2 separate regions of the Homo sapiens genome follow, and region 2 is linked to region 1. The links come from fine-mapping of genetic effects on gene expression. Tissue or cell type: whole blood. Region 1 holds a variant in brackets; the other region holds the start of a gene. All regions are shown on one strand. Distances are between the middles of the regions.

The links. PIP is the estimated chance that this variant, and not a neighbour inherited with it, causes the effect.
Region 2: POLR2C starts here. The variant in region 1 is fine-mapped to the expression of POLR2C in whole blood (TOPMed, PIP above 0.99).

The regions. Positions count from the first base shown.
Region 1 is chr16:57,419,646-57,427,908 of GRCh38, reverse strand. No RefSeq gene overlaps it. Among named protein-coding and RNA genes, the nearest start is that of CCL17, 19 kb to the right of the region's middle. The variant T/C (reference allele first, on the strand shown) is at 4,550.
Region 2 is chr16:57,457,755-57,465,754 of GRCh38, reverse strand. POLR2C (RNA polymerase II subunit C) reads right to left here and starts at 3,076. Exons shown (of 9, transcript NM_032940.3): 1 at 2,945-3,076; 2 at 2,677-2,726. The coding sequence starts at 3,030. It overlaps COQ9 (coenzyme Q9), which reads right to left. Exons shown (of 9, transcript NM_020312.4): 6 at 7,405-7,509; 7 at 6,035-6,190; 8 at 5,651-5,704; 9 at 4,485-5,166. The coding sequence ends at 5,131. RefSeq lists an enhancer at 2,924-3,218.

The DNA.
Region 1 (8,263 bases):
GACTTGAAGTTAATTAAAAGGGAGATTATCCTGAGTAGGCTTGACCCAATCAGTTGATCCTTTAAAAGAACTAGAGAAGAATTTCTCTTGCTAGCCATGAAGAAGTAAGTGCTGTATTAGTCTGTTTTCATACTACTATAAAGAACTGCCCGAGACTGGGTAATTTTTAAAGGGAAGAGGTTTAATTGACTCACAGTTCTGCATGGCTGGGGAGGCCTCAGGCAACTTACAATCATGGCGGAAGGCGAAGGGGAAGCAAGACACCTCCTTCACAAGGTGGCAGGGAGGAGACATGCTGAGCAAAGGAGGAAGAGCCCCTTATAAAACCATCAGATCTTGTGAGAACTCACTATCATCAGAACAGCATGGGGGAAACCGCCCTCATGATTCAGTTACCTCCACCCCTCTCGCTTGACACGTGGGGATTATGGGGATTACAATTCAAGATGAGATTTGGGTGGGGACACGAAGCCTAACCATATCAGTTGCCAAGTAGGGAGAGGGCCATTGGCAAGGAACTGTGAGTGCAGGCTCCTCACATGCTGGCAGACAGTCGAGAAAAAGGGGACCTTAGTCCACAGCTGCAAGGAACCGCATTCTGCCAACAACCAGGTTAGCTTGGAGAGGACCCCAAGTTCCAGTTGAGAATGCAGCCTAGCCGGCACCTTGTAAGATCCTGAGTAGAGGCCCCGGTCTTCTGTGCCAGGACTCCTGGCCCACAGAACTTGTGATAAGAAATGGGTGTTTTAAGCAGCTAAATGTGAGGTCGTTGGTTACACAGCAGTAGGAAACTAATTCAGCCCCAGAATGGTTTGACAGTAACAAAATTATTATTTATTATTATTATTTTGAGATGGAGTCTCGCTCTCTCACCCAGGCTGGAGTGCAGTGGTGTGATCTCGGTTCACTGCAAGCTCTGCCTCCCAGGTTCAAGCGATTCTCCTGCCTCAGCCTCCCGAGTAGCTGGGACTACAGGCATGTACCACCACGCCCAGCTAATTTTTTGTATTTTTAATAGAGACGGGGTTTTACCATGTTAGCCAGGCTGGTCTCAAACTCCTGACCTTGTGATTCACCTGCCTCGGCCTCCCAAAGTGCTGGGATTATAGGTGTGAGCCACTGCCTGGTCCGATAGTAACATAATTATTAAGCTGCAGGGCCACTGTTGGTTGCTTCTGCTGCACTTGCCCATATGAAGGACAAAAATCTCAACCTCCATGTTGAGGACAAGAGATCCTGAGCCAGAGCTTCCTGGACAGGCCTAGCAAATGCCACAAGCCCTCGCCGATTCTTGCTCTGAGTCCCAGCTGTTGCTGGCAAAAAGGATACTGCCATCTCCTGTCTGCTGCAGTTGGCATAGTTAATGATTTTATGCCGGCAGTTGCCGTGTCACTCCACAGGGTCCGGGGCAAGCCAGCTAGCTCGGAGTCTGGGGCCCAGAGTGAGGGAAGAGTCCTTGCCAATCAGCAGGACACACCTGGGCCGGGGGCTCAGACACACCTGCACCTACACCTGCACCCAGTGAGGCAACAGCCAGACAGGCTAGAGGTTTCAGCGTTCAGCAAGCTCACAGTATTGGAGCCAACATGGGCTCTTATAATCACTGAATGCAACCTCATCTTACATCTGAGGAAAGGGTGAGACTGGGAGGGTAACCTGCTGCCATCATTCACCTGAGCACCTCTTAAAAGTACTGAGGCCTGGCCGGGTGTGGTGGCTCACGCCTGTAATCCCAGCACTTTGGGAGGCTGAGGTGGGCAGATCATGAGGTCAGGAGATTGAGACCCTCCTGGCTAACACAGTGAAACCCCATCTCTACTAAAAATACAAAAAATTAGCCGGGTGTGGTGGTGGGTGCCTTGTAGTCCCAGCTACTCGGGAGGCTGAGGCAGGAGAATCGCTTGGACCTGGGAGGCAGAGCTGGCAGTGAGCCGAGATCACACCACTGCACTCCAGCCTGGGAGACACAGCGAGACTCCGTCTCAAAAAAATAAAGTACTGAGGCCTGGCCCGGCACAGTGGCTCACACCTGTAATCCCAGCACTTTGGAAGGCCGAGGCAGGTGGATCACTTGAAGTCAGGAGTTCGAGACCAGCCTGGCCAACATGGTGAAACCCCACCTCTACTAAAAATACAAAAATTAGCCAGGTGTGGTGGTGCATGCCTGTAATCCCAGCTACTTTGGAGGCTGAGGCAGTTGAATCGCTTGAACCCAGGAGGCGGAGGTTGCAGTAAGGCAAGATGGTGCCATTGCCCTCCAGCCTGGGTGACAAGAGTGAAACTCCATCTCAAAAAAAAAAAAAAGTACTGAGGCCTGATGTCCTTGGATGTTCTGAGTCAGCCCAATGTGGACCGAGATGGGGCTGGGGGTGTAATATTTCTTCTTTTTTAGTTTTCTAAAGTCTCTAGCTTAGAACTTGGCAGTGTACATTTGGGACTTCCCCCTTCCGAAATCATTCAAAATCAGTAAATGGAGGGGACAGCAGAGACAAACCATTACCTTCCTTGGGGTTAGGAGGCAGCCAAAACAGAACCACAAAATACTTGGAAGGAGATGAGAGCAGAGGCTTTGGAGCCAGAGTGTGGACAGGAGAGAAGGGAGAGCAGATGAGGGTGCAAACCTGCTCCAGATGAAGATACCCCTGAGCTGCAGAATGGGCCCTCGTGTGTAACAGTGGGGTCCAAGGGCACAGGCAGGCAGTGGGGCTGAAGGGAGAACCCCACAGCGGAGCCTGGCATGCTGGAAGCACCCTGGTCTCTGCACTGGAGAAGAGAGACTGTGAACAGCCCAGCTGCCTGTCCTTGTGGCAGGGAGAAGGCTAAACAGAAACCTTACCAAGTATTGGTGAAAATGTGGCCGGGTGAGAACTCCCTGTTGGTAGGGATACTTTGGGCAATGTCACCCTCATGTCACTTTGAACACTGGCTGCATATTAGAATCACCTGGATAGCTTCCAAAAATAAACCAAAACAAAACAAAACAAAAGCCTATTCCTGGATTTCCTCTCCAAAACCCAATTCAGTCAGAATCCCTTGGAGTAGGGCCCAGGGCATCAGCATTTTTGCAAAGCTCTCCCAGGTCATTGTAGAGTGCAGCCAGGATTGAGAACCACTGCCCTAGAGAAATTCTTTGGCCCATGCACCAGGAGACAAGTATTCAAAGCAGCAGTACTTCTAAGAGACAATCCAAATGTCCATTAACAAGAGCGTGAATGAATGAGCTGTGCGTCCAAGCAGTGGAACACTGCACAGCAGTGATGAGCTATAGCTGTGCACTTCAACATGGAAGAATCACGAAGCAACAGAAGCCACAAAAGCAAGTCACAGAAGTGTGTGTGTGTGTGTGTGTGTGTGAGAAATATTTCATTTACATAAAGTTCAAAAACATGCCAGATGCATCAGCCTGTCATTAAGGATATACACATACATATGTGCATATACATGATGTATACACACATGTATGTGTGTGACAAAACTAATAAAGAGCTCAAGGGGAATGATATAATTCAGGACCACAGTTGGCTCCAAAGGGAGACGGGAGAAAGAGGCAGGACTTCATCAGCAGGAAAGTTCTATTTCTTTAGGCTGGACGGTGGGTATACAAGTGTTTATTTTTATGTGTTTGTATACCTGCTATATACATGATGGATTTGTATTTCTTCTTCTTTTTTTTTTTTTTTTTTTTTTTTGAGACAGAGTCTCGCTCTGTCGCCCAGGTCGGACTGCGGACTGCAGTGGCGCAATCTCGGCTCACTGCAAGCTCCGCTTCCCGGGTTCACGCCATTCTCCTGCCTCAGCCTCCCGAGTAGCTGGGACTACAGGCGCCCGCCACCGCGCCCGGCTAATTTTTTGTATTTTTTAGTAGAGACGGGGTTTCACCATGTTAGCCAGGCTGGTCTTGAACTCCTGACCTCAGGTGATCCACTCGCCTCAGCCTCCCAAAGTGCTGGGATTAACAGGCGTGAGCCACCACGCCCGACCAGTGGATTTGTATTTCTAAGAAACTTCATTGAAAAAACCTGAAAACCTCTCACATGAAACCCTGGGTCTTAAGAAGAATACTGCTAGCCCAGGACAAAGTCCTGCTTCTCCCCGACACGAACCTCTGTGGAACACTTGACCCCGTTATCATCTCATGCAAAATTTTTAAAGTGGAACTAGTACGGCATCTATATATATAAAGCTGCCTCAGAATAATAGTAACAGAGGGAGAAGGTTGTCACAGAGCAGGTGAATACTGTTTGTGACCAAAATTTTTGCTACAAATTACACAAATGTATAAAATAGCTTTGTGCTAAGTAGGGGTGGGGATGGGGCAGCTCTTGGGTGGCTCTTACTTCACCCCTCTCGGGGAAAGCAGGGACAGAAGCCCCCACTCAGCCCTCAGTGACTTCAGATCTCACCTTCAGTGGTCACTCCTGGTGGTCAAGCTGGTGGTCTGGTCATTGGTTACCCGTGGCCCACCATCCAGCATGAGGCTTTCACCTCTGCAAACCTCTGTGCTGATCTGGAGACTGCGTTCAGACTCAGCTGGGTTAGAATGCTCCTT[T/C]CTTTCCTTCCTTCTTTCCTCCCTTCCTTCCCCTCCCTCACTCCTTCCCTCTCTTCCTTCCTTCCCCTCCTTCCCTCCCTCCCTTCCCCTCCCTCACTCCTTCCCTCTCTTCCTTCCTTCCCCTCCTTCCCTCCCTCCCTCCTTCATTGCTTCCCCTCCCTCCCTTCCTCCCCCTCCCTCCCTCCCTTCCCTCCCACCATCCATCCTTCCTTCCTTCTCCTCTTCCCTTCCTTCCCCTTTCTTCCTTTTCCTTCCTTCCCTTCCTTCCTTCCTCTCTCCATCCCTTCCCCTCCCTCCCTCCCTTTCCTCCTTCCTCCCTCCCTCCCTCCCTTCCTTCCTCCCTCCCTCCCTTCCTTCCTTTCCTCCTTCCTTCCTTCCTTTTTGATTTTCTATTATTACTTAAACATTTTTTCTCTTAAATCATGAAAGATTTCAAATACAGAGAATTTCCAATAGACAACTAGCTTTGCTGTGTGTGATTCTGATCACTCCTTTTTTTCGTACACAAGTGATACAGCAGTGGCAAAATCCCTTCGCTGTCCTCCCAGAGGACTCCTTTGTCCTGAGCTGATATATGTCTCATCCAAGCCTGCTACTCTACAGAAAAGTGAATATTGAATATGTCTTTTTTATGAAATTCACATAACATAAAATGAACGATTTAAAATAAACAATTCAGCAGCATTTGGTACATTCACAGTGTGGTGCAACCACCACCTCTATCTAGTTCCAAAATGTTTTCATTGCCCTGAAAGGAAACCCCATCCCCAGTAAGCAGTCCCTTCCGGTCTTCCTCTCCCACCATCTCTGGTCACCACCAGTGGGCGTTCTGACTCCATGGAGTTACTTCTGACATTTCATATGAATGAAATTATACACTGTGTGACCTTCTGCGTTTGGCTTCTTTAGCTTAACAGAGTGTTTCGAGCTTCACCCATATCGTAGGGCGTATCCATGCAGAAAAATCTTCCTTATATGGTTAGACCACTTTTGTTTATCCATTCAGCTGTTGATAGGCCTTGGGCTGTTTCCAGCTTTGTGCTGTAGTAAATATCCCACCATGAACATGTATGTGCAAGGACTTAACAAGTCCTTTGAAAGCTGATTTTTGGCTGTGACAGTTTCTCAGACTTTCCTTGTTTTGGATGAGCTTGATCATTTTGAGGAGTACTGGTCAGGGTTGGTTGGTTGGTTTGTTTTGAGACAGAGTCTCACTCTGTTGCCCAGGCTGGAGTGCAGTGGACTGATCTGGGCTCACTGCAGCCTCTACCTCCCAGGTTCAAGCAATCCCCCTGCCTCGGCCTCCCAAGTAGCTGGGATTACAGGCATGCACCACCATGCCCAGCTAATTTTTGTATTTTTAGTACTGTCAGAGTTTCACCCTGTTGGCCAGGCTGGTCTTGAACTCCTGACCTCAAGTGATCCGCCTGCCTCGGCCCCTCAAAGTGCTGGGATTACAGGTGTGAGCCACCATGCTTGGCTGAAGGCTGGCTTCTTAAAGCCCTGATCCCTTTGCTCGTCTGAGTATTTCACCCCCGTGGTTGCCATGCTGGCTTTGGAGAAGGGCACAGGGAATATCCAGGTGATGGCAGTTCAATTATGAGGAAATGGCAGGTTTTCTTTTCTTTCTTTTCTTTTCTTTTTCTTTTTTTTTTTTTTGAGACAGAGTCTCACTCTCACTCTGTCACCCAGGCTGGAGTGCAATGGCGTGATCTCGGCTCACTGCAACCTCTGCCTCCCGAGTTCAAGTGATTCTCCTGCCTCAGCCTCCCGAGTAGCTGGGATTACAGGCACGCGCCACCATGCCTGGCTAATTTTTGTATTTTTAGTAGAGACGGGGTTTCACCATGTTGGTCACACTGGTCTCGATCGCTTGACCTCATGATTGTGAGCCACTGCGTCCGACCAGAAACGGCAGGTTTTCTAAGACTGTGGTCCGCTAAGGGCGATGTGAGAGGTAGAGGAGTAGCCATATTGGCACATCCCCAAACAGGTGAGAGAAGGTCCAGTTCCATTGCTTCATGGAGAAATAGGCTCAGGCAGGTGAGGCTCAGGCAGGTGAGGCGCATGTGTCCAGGTCCGACGGCCAGTCAGTGGCAAAGCAGAGACTCCAAACAGGTCCCTGACCCTTTGTGTTAAAATGTACTTTCGAAGATAAACTTTTTTTAGCTCCCACATATGAGTGAGAACATGAGATATTTGTCTTTCTGTGCCTGGCTTATTTCACTTAACATAATGACTGTCCATCCATTTTGCTGCAAATGACAGGATTTCCTTCTTTTTTTATGGCTGAATCGTACTCTGTTGTGTACATGTACCAAATTTATTTATTTATTACTCCATTGATGGACACGGGTTGATTTCATATTTTGGCTATTGTGAATAGTGCTGCAATAAACATGGGGGTGCAGGTATCCCTTTGATATATTGATTTCCTTTCCTTTGGATAAATACCCAGTAGTAGGATTGCTGGATCATATGGTAGTTCTATTTAGGGGAGAGGGGTGATGGGGAGAGATTGGTTAATGGGTACAAACAAACAGCTGGATAGAAGGAATAATTTCCAGTGTTCGATTGCACAGTAGGGTGACTATAGTAAACAATTTATTGTGTATTTCTTTTTTCTTTCTTTCTTTTCTTCCTTCCTTCCTTCCTTCCTTTCTTTTTCTTTCTTTCTTTCTTTCTTTGAGATGGAGTTTCACTCTTATCGCCCAGGCTGGAGTGCAATGGTGCAATCTTGGCTCACTGCAACCTCTCCCGGGTTCAAGCGATTCTCCTGCCTCAGCCTCCCGAGTAGCTAGGATTACAGGTGCCAGCCACCACATCCAGCTAATTTTTTTGTATTTTTAGTAAAGATGGGGTTTCATCATGTTGGCCAAGCTGGTCTAGAACTCCTGACCTCAGGTGATCTACCTACTTTGGCCTCCCAAAGTGCTAGGATTACAGGCGTGAGCCACCATGCCCAGCCTTTTTTTTCTTTTTGAGACAGGGTCTCCCTCTGTAACCCCGGCTGGAGTGCAGTGGCACCATCACAGTTCACTGCAGCCTTGACCTGCTGTGCTCAAGTGATCCTCCCACCTCAGCCTCCTGAGTAGCTGGCAGCACAGGCGCATGCTACCATGCCTGGCTAATTTGTGCATTTCGTAAAGACTGAGTCTCACTATGTTGCCCAGACTGGTCTCAGACTCCTGGGCTCAAGTGATCCTCCCACCTTGGCCTCCCAGAGTGCTGGGATTACAGGTGTGAGCCACTATGCCCAGCCTATTGTATATTTCAAAATAGCTAGAAGAGAAGATTTGAAACGTTCCCAACACAGTGAAATGATAAATGTTCGAGGTGATGGATATCCTGATTACCTTGATCTGATCACTATGCATTGTATGCTTGTGTCACAGTATCATATGTATCCCATAAATATGTACAATTACTATGCATCAATTTAAAAAATTTAAAATGTACCCCCAGGATTTGAATTGATGGAGGTGACTGAGTGACAACACAGAGCGACCAAGGACACTGAAAGAATTCATCACTTGCATCTCCCAGGAGAACAGGGCATGGCACACACGCAGGACCACACACGGGGCCACAGGGGGAGCACCAAGTTTGGTCAGGAGGCTGAAAGGAAGGATCAGAACAGCACAGGCCACAGCCTTTTGTGGGGTTTCCACCCGAAGTGCAAGGCAGGCCAGGGGAAGCAGCCCGGGTCTGGCT
Region 2 (8,000 bases), 38 kb before region 1:
GAATTTAATGCAGGGGGCTCCCTGCTTCACAGAAAACACTGACTTATAGAATATCATAGAAGTGGAAACATGTTTATTTGAGCTGAGTATTTGCATGAGAAGCACTTAAATCTGCTACCTGTGCCACCACTAAATCCAAGAACATGAACTATTTGAGCACTTCAAAGTCAGGGAAACCCTCACAGAAGCAACACAGACTTATGGGGCCATACCTCATTTTAGGATATAATGACTGGACTGCCCAACTTAGCACTTTTTAAACACTCAATCAACAAATGTTTACTGAATTCTTTTAATGCGCAAAGTATACTAAATATAGAACCCAATCCCTAGCAGCAATGAGCTCGTAGGAGGGTAAAGACTGTATTATCGATCACACATGCTTGACTTAAACACACATTTATTCATTCATAAACATTTGCATGGAACCAACTAAATCCAGGAATCAAATGGCACTGGAGCCCAACTGCCAAACGAGGGACACAGACACTAGGAACAGCGGTCGGAAGAGGACCTCCCCCTGCCAGGCCTCCACCTGCTCTGTCCTGCTATGCTTCCCATTGCTTCCCCAGTCCAAGCCAACTGAGAGAACCCTGACCCAAGCTTTTCTGCCTCTTTAATCCCCCAGCCCTTCCCTCCAGCACACCCTTCCCCTCCTTGCTGTACAGGTTAAGATCCTCTGTGCCTCCTGAAAACTAAGCCTTGCCTGCTCTCTATGCTACAGATGTGACATTCCCTCCCTTTCAACTCCTCTCTCACAAAACTCTGTTCAGACTTCCCTCAAGACACTTGTCATAGTGTGCCTTGTGTCATATTTGTGTATGTTATGTCTATACCTCAAGCTTCAGAAATTCCTTCACGCAGGTCCTGGGATGTCTTTGTATTCCTAGCATGGGTGCTCAATATTATTTGTAGAACTGAATTTGTTGGGAAAGAGGCATTTAGACTCAGAATGGCAGGGCTGCATCATGAAGTACAACTCCCTCACCTGACTCCTGATGAAACTGAGGTCCAGAGGCATGAAGTGCTTAGGCAGGGGGAGGTCCAGCACTCCAAGCTGAATTTAAGAAGTGACTGGGGGGCGGGGGGGTGGGGTGGTGGTGGTAGTGGATAAACTACAATGTTCTCTTGCCTAATCATTTGGCCTGCTTATTTCCTTAAAAGTCTGAATATTTGATGCCACAGCTATGACTTATATTTATTTTGCCTAATCCAAACTCTCTGAGCTGACTCTCAGAAATGCTTGAAGTATTTCATACAAGTATAATCAATGCATTAAGCACCTGGAGCAGAGTGGCTGGAACCAGACCAGAAATTGATCTTCCCTCCTCTAAGAGCCAAGTGCACCACAGCTATGCTTCTCCTGAACTACTGATCAAAATCTACCTTGCTTTAGTGTTGTCTGTGGATTCATCTCTCCCCTACAACCTCACTGTGGACTCCATGAGGGCAAAAACCCTGTTCTCTACAGCTTTGCATTCCCAGAGCTTACCACCATGCCTGCCACTTTCATGCTCCATAAATGCTGTTGAAGGAATAGATTAATAAAAAAGCCATCTACCAGCACTGAGCACTCACTAAACACAAAGCACTTATATGGATTACCTCACTTAATCCTTAACATTACCCTGATAAGGATCATTAGTGGCCGAATGTTACAGATGAGGAAACTGCAGCACACAGAAGTTTAATAACTTGCCCAAGTTTCACAAAAGCAGTAAGTGATGCAGCCATAAGAACGAACGAAATCATGTCCTCTGCAGCAACATGGACGTGGCTGGAAGCCACTATCTTCTTTTTTATTTTCTTTTGTTTGAGAAGGAGTCTCACTCTATTGCCCAGGCCAGAGTGCAGTGGCATGATCTCGGCTCACTGCAACCTCCACCTTCTGGGTTCAATCAATTCTGCCTCAGCCTCCCCAGTAGCTGGGATTACAGGTGGGAGCCACCACACCTGGCTAATTTTTGCATTTTTAGTAGAGGCGGGCTTTCCCCATGTTGGCCAGGCTGGTCTCAAACTCCTGGCCTCAGGTGTTCCTCAGTCTTGGCCTCCCAAAGTGCTGGAATTACAGGCGCGAGCGCGGCCTGGAAGCCATTATCCTAAGAGAATTAACACAGGAACAGAAAACCAAACACCGCATGGGAGCTAAAACTGGGTACGCACGGACATAAAGATGACAATAAACACACTGGTGACTACTAGAGCTGGAAGGGAGGCAGTGGGGCTAGGGGTGAAAAACTACCTATTGCGTACTATGCTCACTACCTGGGTGAAAGGATCATTTATACCCCAAATCTCAGCATCACGCACTATACCCAGGCAACAAACCTGCACCAATGTACCCCTTGACTCCAAAATAAAAGTTGAAAACATTTTAAAAACTTTTGTAACAATAGTAGTGAAAACAGTATTTGAACCCAAGTCTGCACACTGCTAAACCCATGCTTCTCAGCAATGCATACCCAGGACAAGGGTGGACCTAAGTGGCCCGTGGGCGCCAGGGAGGCGGCCACTGAGCCAAGGGCACAGGGTATGGTCAAGTCTCCAGCAATGCACTTTTCTCAGCACTACCACCCTCAGCCCGAACCAAGGACTGGAAGGAGCCCCAAAGAGTGTGTGGGTGGAGAGCGGGGCAGGAACCCGTGGGCGCGGGAACGAGGAAGGGGAGTCGCTTACCTATTATGGGAACCTCAGCGATGAAGACCCTCCGAATCGAATTGGCCACCCTGAAAGATCAAAAGCCAAGGGGCGTGAAGGCGCTGCAGCCTCGACAGGCTGGGCCCGCGCCGCAGGCTCCCAAAGCTAAAGCCCTGGTGCAGGGGGGCAGCTCTGGAAGGACATCGCCCCCACCCCACCCCACTACACCCCCGCCCCCTGCCCCGGGGCCCCGGCTTGGGCCTCCCGGCGCCCCAGAGCCGCCAGCCTCTTCCCTCGGTAGCCTTACGCCAGGTCGGTGTTCTCGATGATGAACTTGACATTCTCGTCAGTGAGCTCCGTGATCCGCACGGTAGGCTGGTTGGCGTACGGCATCTCGCCCAGGGGCCACCAGCCTCCGCGTCTGCTCCGCGGTGACTGCGCGGCGCCACCGCCAACACCGGAAGTCAGTCAGCGAGGCCTCCGCGGCTTCCGCAAAGACGACTCACAGCGCCGCCTGCTGCTCGGAGGCCAGAACTGCCGAGCGTCTTCTGCGGCCTCCTGCTTTAAAATGTACCAGATTCAGCTATCTCGGAGGGTAGTTTGGCAAAACACGCATACGTCCTTCACTTAACAGTAACACTTCTAAGAATTCATACTGCAGAAACACTTGCAGTTGTAAACAAAGATACGAGTGCAGGGACGTTCGTGGTAGTACTGTTTGTACTGTCCATTGATAAGAGACCTGGTGGAGTATACACACATGGAATACTATGAAGCACTTAAAAAGAACTTGTACATCTATAGAAAAACAAAAGTATATTTTAATATGAATGTATATTTTAGCAAAGTATACCTGAATTATAAGTAAATACCCTTTCCCTTGCAGTCTCAAGTATGGACCATGCACTTCTGAAAACTTCAGGAAAAGATACAATGTTCTTTAACCTAATGCTTCCTCTACAGTCTGTGTAGCTGTGGTGGGTGAGTGGGAACTCTTTGTCTCTGCATCCCCAGTGCCTGGCAGTGGGCACCATGTGGGGTGCATGCTCAACAAAGAACTACTGAAGTCCCCTAAACAGACTGGAGAGAGGTTTAAATGGGCCTCAAAAAAAGTGGCTGCTGCTCCAACAGAGAAAAGCTCTAAAATAGAACGTGGCAGGAAATACATTTAAGAGTTGGGAGAAGAGTAACCAGATAAAGAGGAGTTTGCCTTTGCAAAGAGTGACACCTCTTCCTGAAACAGAGGGTGGGCACTGATGGAACCCTGCTCCATAACCTGTGTCATCTTGGTAAATTAAGAATTATGGTTGTCTGCTGAGTGTAAGATGGATGCTATGAAGGAAAAAGGAGAATGCAATGAAAACTGGAACAGCTACTGCGAAAACTTCACAGGATGTCAAGAGATACAAGGAATTGAGAGGTGCAAAAAAGATCCAGTGGAAGACCCACAAGAGATCTGAAATTCAATTAGTTGCTGACTTTCCCCCATTAATATTCAGCTGACAGGCAGAAGAGAGCAAAGCAGAAAACAGAGCTAACCAGACGTGCAAAGGGAACCCAGCCAGTGTAGAGGCTGAGAAAATTACTGGGGCTAAAGAATGTACCACTAAAATCGTCAGACAAGAGCAGCCAAGGGAGCTGATGGTCTGTGGGAAGGCTTCTGTTACCCGTATTTTACTGATGGGAAGACTTGAGCCCAGAGACGCAGAGGTACTATAATTACCACTATGTATTAGGCAGTGGCAGCGCCAGAACACAGGTCTCCTGGCTGCCATAACTTAACCTGTCTCCCTCTGGGGTCCTGGATACCTATCATGATTGATAAGGAAACTAACTACACAATGGGAAACTACTTCAAACATATTTATTATTTTTACAGACTCAAAATACACTAATAATCCTGCAATGCATGCTGGTGTCATGTGACACCAGGCCTGGAATCACACCTCTGTCCAGCAGGCACTTGTCTCAGGTGAGGCAGTTTTCTGAGGGGGCTCCCAGGAACAGCATCTCAGGACACCTGAGAGGGAGGGGGCTGCAAGGAACACCTCTGTGTGCACACGCCTGTGCTGTGCTGGAGATGAGCTGTCACCTTGAGGTGGCGTCAGACCTTGACTCTGGCTTGGGAGCCCCAAGGTTAAGGGAAGGTTAAGACATGATCAAGGTGCCCATGAGATTGTGACAGGGACATGCTGGGTTTCTGTGGCTTGACTGCTTGGATGAACATCTCATTTTTCAATCACACAGTTGCAGTGCAGAAAGGCATCAGGAGGCTTGGTCTGGTATTAGGAACTGAAGAAGCAGCCCAATCCCTGACCAGAACGGTAGCATCAAATGCCTTGTGGTTTCCAGGTGGCTGTGGTAGTGACTCAGGAGTCCTTTAGTGTGTTCTCGTGAACACCAGGTTATGTGGATGGCACCTTATACTTTTCAAAGCTCTTTCAATCTGTCCGCTCATTCTCTTCTAGGCATTGTAGCTTATACCCCTTCCTCTCACCGACGCTGGTTTAGACCTGTCAAGTTCTTGAGCTGACACGGGAATGGAAATAAAGAGAATAGTGAGGGCTTACCTTGCCTCTAGACTCTAATAGAAAAGACCTAGCTTTTCTTTTTCTCTTTTTTTTTTTCTTTTTTGCATAGAGACAGGGTTTTGCTATGTTGGCCAGACTGTCCTCAAACTCCTGGGCTCAAGCGATCTTCCCAAATCGCTGAGATGATATGCATGAGCCACTGCACCTGGCCAAGATCCAGGTTTGCAAGGTGGCAGGTGTGGCTATGATACAGAGACTTGATATACCAGGGTCCCAGGAGTCAGTGATATCTCCTGATGACAGGAAAAAATAAAGAAGTGAGGTTTTTGGAATCAAGACACTAGGGCTGAACCATTGTCAGCCTTATTATTAGATTATTGTTTCCAGGTTAGGGCTACAAAATGATGTGAAGTCAGTAACACATGTATCACAGAGCCGGAATGGGAGAGAGGAGGGGCAGGGATGTGCTGGGCAGTACTCACCGTCACTGCTGCACCCATGAGTCCTTGCACCAGTGCCTCTCCTGTGGACTTTACCTAGAAGGAGTCAGTGTCAGGTTCCCTTAGGCCACCAACACAAAGTTAAACTTGAGACAGGCAGGACAAATCAGGAGGCCTATGAGCCCCAAAAGGTGAAGACAAGGGGGCCACGTTACTGGAAGGAGAGCTTTGGACAACACAATCACAAATGCAAATGAGCAAAGTGTGGCTCTTAGGGAAGGGCTGGCCTGAGGAAGAACCAGCCAGGCCCTTGGGAAGGCCCTCAGGACTGTCAGCTGAGGCCAAAAGGGAGCAAGACCAGCTGTGACCTGAGGAGAATAGGTATGCCTTCTAAAGAGGGTTCCCCAATGGCTAGTCCCCACCTACCTGCTTGGCAGTGTGGCCCATGTTCATTGCATCATTAACCCGGTTTTCCAGGAAGCGCCAAGTGTCCTCAAAGTCTGGAGAGGAGTCCTGCATCATCACCAGCTCTGTTGTGTTGTAGATGGCAGCCAGCATGGCTCGGCGGGTGTACCAGTTAAACTGTAAAGAAACCCACACTACCGCTGTGGGCTGGTGCAAGTCTGAGGCAGTTCCTACCCAAGGCCATGGGAACTCCTGGGTTCCCTCTTGACTACTTCTTGACTGTCACAGATACATCTGGCCCTCTGGACAACACTACCATCTCAAACTTGACTGAGCATCAGAATTACCTACTTGATTAAAAATGCAAGCTCCTGGGCCCAACCTCTTAAGAGTAGAGTCAATGGATCTAAATAAAGTGCCAGGAATCAGGAAACTTAATAAGTATCCCAGATGATTTGGCTACATCCAATCCATTTTGGAACTGCTAGTAGAAAGCCTACATCTTAAGACATCTGAGTCCCAGAAGACGCTGTAATCAGCCAGCTATGACCGAACCTTGGTGTGTTCATCAATAAAGTGAGGGCTGAGAGAGGCTCATGGACAGATTACAATACCTGGGCAAAGCTGAGAGTTCAAGTCCCTCAGCAACTTCTGATTGTTCTAGCAAACTACTCTTCAGAGGACCAGCTCAGCTGCTTGGTGTTTTATTCCTTTAATTTCTTTGCTTTCTAATTTCATTTTCCTACCGTCTCTGTTGGCATTATATTCCCACATGGAGGAAGTTTATTAAAACACTTTGTTATAACTATGGTGGGAGTATTTCTGTGCCTCCTCATCCAGGATTCCACAAAGTATCATCACATTTTCTTTTATGAAGGTGTATTTTTTAAAATTTCCTACCAGAAATATGATAGCATTAACAAGTCGGATTCTTTCCTGGTGCTGTTTAAAGAGCCTTATTGATCACTTAGCAAAGCAGGCCAAGATGGGCTGGGGAAGGGAATTTCTTTTTAAAGCAATGGGTGCCTCCATGGCATTTCTTTTTTTCAAAAGAGGAATTTTGCTGCAGAATCTACATCTTAGGAGAGAGGGAAATGATAATAAAATGGCAGCCCAATTAGCTTTCGCCAATGCTAAAGGATCTCTGACACCTGGTGTCACCACAAGCTGGAAGAAATAATAACTGGTTTGTGGCTAGAATGCTGGTCCCTGAATGAAGATGACCTAGATCCCACTTTGGCTTCTTGACGGACCTTCCTCATACCTTAGATGGGAATGACACTGCAGCCCCCCTGCAGGGGCTTATGATCAAAGCAATTTCACAAGCTTCTTGAAGAAATGCTTAACACAAGCCTTTCCCAGCCTCCTGTGGGCCTGCAGAAAGCACTCACATCAGTGGACTGGTCCCCAGCGTAATGCCACATGTCATCCACCATGCTGGTGAGCAGGCTCAGGCTGGACGGGATGTTGTGAGGGAGCATGAGGATGCTGAGGGCCTGGAGAGAGAATGGCAGAGGAGTAAGCTCTGCTCACAGGTAATGGTGCATAGTTGACCAGCATCTACCTCTCCAAGAGGTGTATGAGGGGGCCTGCCAAGCTCTGGTTCTCTGAGACCAGCATCTTCACCCACTGGCGTGAGTTGTGGGCAGCTAGCAATGCTGACTACAGCTGAGGAGAGCCAGGGGCATAGCCCCGTCTTATGCAAGCCCAAGCACATTCTCCATCCCTAGCATTTGGAACTGGGAATGCAGAGGGCCAGAGGGTCTAGACTGGTCTAAGCAAGGATGGGCAAAGATACCCCAGTCTGTCACACAAAGGAAGAAGCAGAGATAGGAGTCCGTTCACACACATCAGCTCCTACTGACAAACAGAACAAGGTCCTTCCACTTTACCAATGCTACATCCACTGGGGAGGTGATCAGAGAGGTCCTGGATTGGCTGTAAGGTTTTCTCTTAGTGAAGCAGCCCAGAAGAAAACACTATGCTG